Regions from separate parts of the Homo sapiens genome. Here region 1 is linked to region 2. Evidence: fine-mapped expression QTL. A gene starts in region 2. The other region holds a variant in brackets. All regions are shown on one strand. Distances are between the middles of the regions.

The links.
Region 1: its variant is fine-mapped to the expression of ZFP41 in sigmoid colon (GTEx, PIP 0.99).

The regions. Positions count from the first base shown.
Region 1 is chr8:142,789,035-142,791,934 of GRCh38, reverse strand. No RefSeq gene overlaps it. Among named protein-coding and RNA genes, the nearest start is that of LY6D, 3.9 kb to the right of the region's middle. The variant C/A (reference allele first, on the strand shown) is at 1,389.
Region 2 is chr8:143,245,682-143,248,581 of GRCh38, reverse strand. ZFP41 (ZFP41 zinc finger protein) reads right to left here and starts at 1,643. Exons shown (of 3, transcript NM_173832.6): 1 at 1,440-1,643. RefSeq lists silencers at 1,209-1,258, 1,299-2,188, 2,389-2,548.

The sequences.
Region 1 (2,900 bases), 460 kb after region 2:
GGATGGATGGATGATGAATGGATGGAGGACAGATGGGTGAGTGGGTGGATGGATGGAGGATGGATGATCAGTGAATGGAAGATGAATGGATGAGAAGATGGATGGATGGAGGCTGGATGGATGGAAGATGGAGGATGGATGGATGGAGGATGGATGGATGAAGGCTGGATGGATGGAAGGTGGGCAGATGAGTGGATGGATGGATGGATGGGTGGACAAATGGTAGATTGATTGATGGATGACTGGATGGATGGAGGATGGATGATGAGTGGATGGAGAATGGATGGATGAGTCGATGGATGGATAAGTGAATGAATGGATGGGTAGACAGATGGTAGATTGATTGCTGGATGAGGGATGAATAGATGGATGGAGAATAGACAGATGAGTGGATGGATAGATGGGTGGGTGGATGAGTGGAGAATGAGTGGGCAGATGGTAGATGGATGGATGCATGGATGGATGGAGGATAGAGGATGGATGAGCAGGTATGTATTGGGAGCAAATGAAGGCAGGGGAGTGGGGGAGGAAAGTGAGGTGGGCCCTGTGCTCACCAGCCTTGAACCTACCTCATGGAGCTAAGGGTTGGCAGCCACAAGTTCCAGGCCACAACAGGAAGTAGACTGAGCTGTGGCCTAGCAGAGGGGAGAACCCAGGAGTTCAGCATTAACACAAACCCTCTGACATTCCCTAGAATGCTGGTGGGAGCATGTCCTAATGTGTGAAAATAACCCCCGTCCAGGGCACCTGATTCTCATCCAGGTTCCTTAGGTCTTGCAATTCTAGGGTTCTGTGTTCTGCAAGCCCATGCTAACAGCCTGCAGTCTTGGGACTCTGAGGTCCCCACAGTTGTTTGCGCTATGGTTCCGTGGCTCCAGGGCTGCACTCTGCTGCAACCTCTCTCCCCCTACCACAGGCTGGACACAGTTCACACCCTGAGGGATTCTCCCTCATCGCCCAGACTTTGGCACTGGGCACCCTTGACTAGCCCCCTGAATGCCAGCGCTTCGCAGGGACCATGCCGGTCCTAGGTGCTGAAATGGTGCCTCTCCCAGGGAAGGTGCCAGCCCCGCCTGTGGGCACCACCAGCCAGGCCTGGGAACAGGTTTGTTTCTCTTGGGCCTTAGGAACCTAGAGCCCCAGTCCAGCCTTTGCTGGGAACAAGCTGTGCCCCAAGGTAGAAGGGTTTCTCCATCCACGAAACTGCTCCCTAGATTGCCCCCCTGGCAGTGCAGGAAAGAGAGACCTGGCAAGGATGAGGGGCCTGTGTGGAGGGGCAGAGCTGGCCTCCATCCCCGGCCCCTGGCCCGGCCCGGCCCGGCCCATGGACACTAGGTGTACCCTGGGAGGGGTGGCTGGTAGCCAGGGTCCCAGGGGGTGACCTAAGA[C/A]TAGGGCAGGGCCAGGCTTGGCCCTGGGAAGCAGGTGAAAGAGACTTTGCCTGAGATTGTGGTGCTATGTGTAAAGGTGACTCCGGCACTAGAAAGAGGAGTGGGGAGGCCAGGTGTGAGGGAAGAGCCCAGGCCCAGAGGCCCAGCCCAGCTGTGGCTCCCGCTTGCTGGGTGATGCCGGGCAAGGCCGGGCCCTTGCTGTCCATCTGAGGCCCCATCTGTGCAGGTGAGGGGGCTGAGAGGATCAGGGCAGCCTCTAGAAAGACACCACACACTCAGCCGCTCAGCTTGGGGCAGCCACCTGCCCCTGCGGGGGAAAGAGACAGAAAAGCGGCCTGGCACCTGGGCCCCAATGCCCTTGCCCGACACCCACCTGCTTACCAGGTAATGGCCACACACCCTTCCCTGCTTAGACAGCTCCAACAAGGTTGGTCCTCCCTTGGCTTCTCAGCCCCAGATCCTCACCCTCCACATCATCACACCCCTGCTGTGGGTCCCACAGAGGCAGCAATTGTCTGTTCCCACTCCCTACTGGTCTGCAGGCCCTGGGACCTGGGCCCTGTCTCTCTTCTCTCCTGGTTTCCATTATATCCAAAGTGCCTTGCATATGGTTGGTCCTTATAAAATGTTGAAGAATGAATGAATGAATGAGTGAGTGAATGAATGAATGAATGGAGTGCCTCAAGGCAGACGGATGCATTTTGGAACCCCTGGGGTGTGGCTGGGATTCTGGCTTGCCCAGGTAACAGCCTGAGGGTGAAGAAGCCCTTCCTTGTGCCCTGGGGCTTCCCAGCTCCTCCAGCCCAGGCAGCTCCTCCAGCCCAGGCAGCTCCTCCAGCCCGCGGCCCCGCCTTGTCCACCGGGCACCCACTCAGTCAGCTCCTCCAGGCCAGGGCCCTGACTTGTCCACCAGGCACCCACTCAGCCAGCTCCTCCAGCCCAGGGCCCCGCCTTGTCCACCGGGCACCCACTCAGCCAGCTTCTCCAGCCCGGGGCCCCGCCTTGTCCACCAGGCACCCATTCAGCCAGGACAGGGCCCAGGGCTGGGCTGGTGCAAGCCTGGAGTACGGTGCTGTGCCGCCCTAAGCCAGGCGCTTCCCTCTCTGAGCCACCACACCCTTGTGTGTTCCTAGGGGCCCAGCATAAGGTAGAGGGGGCAGAAGGTGGGGGAAGGGGCATGAGCAAGGAACTTCGGCTCCAGACAGAAGCCTGGGCTTGTCCCCGTGCCGGGTTTCCTGGTTCAGGGAGCAGGGGGCAAGGCTAACGGGGTGGGGCGGTGGTTTTCCCTGCCCCAGGCCCCTTCGTCGCCTCTCCCAGGTGTCATTTCTGCTGCCAATACCCTGATGGTACCAACCAGGCCCAGGGCCCCAGCTCCAGGGGCTGAGTGGGAGGGGTGGAGTGGGGGAGGGCCCAGGCCCTAGAGAACAGAGGAGGGAGGAGGGGGGAAAGGCTGGCGGTGATAGTGAGAAGTGCTTGAGACCCCACCAGGTTCTGCCCCAGAACGTGCCTGGA
Region 2 (2,900 bases):
GACCAGTCGACCAGCTGTTTGCCTCATGGGCAGGGCGGAGCTGGAGAAACGGCAGCTCTCCAGGGCATGGCGGGAACCTATCTGGCTCTCTGCAGACTCCACTCCACGGCGGGGCGGGGGGTGGTTTGTGAACCCACTGAGCCTAACGGCTGCTGCCCGAGGCCTGTGTGGGGGTCCTCCATGCTGTACAGCACTGTTCCTTCTTCCAGACACTTGTCACTGCACGTGTGGCTGGTCACTGACATGGCAGTCTCCTTATGCGACAGGGTCTCCTGAAGGCGAGGATCGTATCTTTTTTATCTCCAAATCCTAGTCACATACTGTGGTCAGGGAACATTCTCCATAACGGCTCTGTCGACTCAACTTAGGCTGGCAGGTGCTAACCGGCAGAGACTGGAATGACTCACTTCTCTACACGCTGCCCACCCTGAGAAATAAAATATTTCTTAAAAGCAGAGTGGACTGGCCGGGCGCGGTGGCTCATGCCTGTAATCCCAGCACTTTGGGAGGCCGAGGTGGGCGGATCACGAGGTCAGGAGATCGAGACCATCCTGGCCAACATGGTGAAACCCTGTCCCTACCAAAACACAAAAAATTAGCTGGGCGTGGTGGCACGTGCCTGTAGTCCTAGCTACTCAGGAGGCTGAGGGAGGGGAATTGCCTGAACCCAGGAGATAGAAGTTGCAGTGAGCAAAGGTCGCGCCAGTGCACTCCTGCCTGGCGACAGAACAAGACTCCGTCTCAAACAAAAAAACCAAACCAAACCAAAACAAAAAACCCCACACGCAAAAAACAAAAACGGATTGGACCATAGCGATTTTCTTGGCCTCACCTCACAGGCCTGTAGACAGGAGTGATTAGCTAGTTACAAACAGCGCAACCCACGCTTGCCACACCCCTAAAGACTGGGGTTCTGGTTCTGTCGTGCAACTCCAGCGTAGCTCCGTCGCCTCTCTGGGCGGAGGACCCTTCACTTGTAATATGAAGCTCTGGGTATCCGTGGGCGGTAAGGGCTGCCTAGAAAACCTCACTCACCCTGGCGCCTCCCTCCACTACTTTCAGGGATCTGGGTCTCATGGAGAGACTGGAACATTAGTGGGCTTGAGATTCAGGGGCAATCTGCACTAAAACAGCCTGCTGGGTCCACGGCCTGCCAGGGGCCTGCTAGCTGTGCCAAGGCCTGAGATGCCAGGCATCTGAGCCAGGCGGAGGGGCCCGCCAGGGTCCCGTGCGTGCTCCTAGTTAGAGGCTCTCCTTTCAACGGCAGAGCCCCGCGGCCCACGTGCAGAGCTAGGTCGGCCTCGGGGCCGGCGCCCGGGAGGTGCTCAAAGCCGGGTCTTGCCACATCCCTGGAGCGCCGGGGTGCGGGGAGGCGGCGGGGCCCATACCGACGCTGCGCGTCCTGGGCCGGAGGCGGCAGGCAGGAGCCCAGTGAGTACCTGGCTGGAGACGAGAGGCGACGAGGACCTCCCGCTGCAGAGCGCGGACGCGCCCGGGCCCTACCAGGACTGCTGGAGGGCGGGGAGAGGCGCGCGCCCCTCGCGGGGGCCGGAGGCAGGAAAGGAGAGCCCTAGATGCGGGACCCCCCAACAGCTCCCCACCAGTGCCAGCGTCCCCGTCGGCCCTAGGCACCGGCAGGAAATGCCCGCCCGCTGACCCGCCCCTTCCGGCGGCCGCGCTAGGAGCCTGGGCCGGACTCGGTGATGGTGGGCGGTGGAGGGCTCGGCCCGAGCGGCTCCATCCCCAGCCGACTCCGCCCCCGAAGACCCCGCCCCGATCAGGCCCCGCCCCCTCAGGCTTCACCCATAACTGCCGCCACGCCCGCAGGGTCCTCCCCGAGCTGACCCCGCCCCTTTACAGTCGTCTATGGCAGGCGCCCTCCCGAAGGCTCCCCCGAAATCAGGTCCCTCCCCGAGCGGGCCCCGCCTCCGAAAGCTCCTTCCCGAGCCGGCTTCCCCTCATGCCCCGCCCCCTCAGGCTCCGCCCTCGTGTCCCGCCCCCGAAAGTTCCTCCCCAGCCACCTCCCCACATGCTCCGCCCCCAGGCTCCGCCCCATGTCCCGCCCCCAAAAAGCCCCGCCCCGAACCGGCACCCTCATGCCCCGCCCCCAGCGGCCCCGCCCCGCAAGGCCCAGTCCCCAGCAGCTCGGTCCCGAGCCGACCCTGTCACGTAGGCTGCGCCCACCAGACTCTCCGGATCCGACGCGCGTGGGCTCCTGGCTCCAGACCCCCAACGGGGAGGTCGCGGCCGCGTGCTGGGAGACTTGTCCCTGAGGACGCTCCCCGCCAACCCCCAGCCCCCGCCGACCCCCAGCTCCCGCCTCCGCCGACCCCCAGCCCCCGCCTCCGCGGCGCCCACGGCTTGCCTCCACGGGAAGTCGCTGTCTCCGCCTTCAGCGCGGAAGGAGAACCGACGCCTCTCCAGGCCGCGGGCCCCTAGCTAGGCGGGCAACGCCTCCACCGCCGCCGCCACCGCGTGCGCGCCCTGGCGAGCCGTCCCCCACCACGTGGCCCCTGCCGCTCCTCCCGCCGCAGGCAGCCCCTCCGGGATGTGCTCCCAGCCGCTGGCTGTGCTCACTCCACTTCCTGCCTGCCCAGATCGCACTGAGCCGCCAGGCCCGCCAGAGCCCCGCGTGTTAGTTCCCTACGTACCGCAAATTGGGTGTCCTAAAACGACATCCGCCTATTATCTCAAGGCTTCTGTGGGCCAGAAGGCCAGGCTTAGCTGGGTCCTCAGCTCTGGTCAGCCGCTGTGTTCTCATCTGGGGGCTGGACTGGGGAAGGATCACTTCCCACCTCATGCGATTGCTGGCAGAAGTCATGTCCTGGTGCCTGTAGGACTGAGGGCCGGCAGGAGCTGCTCTCAGCTCCCGGGGGCTGCCTGCCAGTCCCTACTGTGGG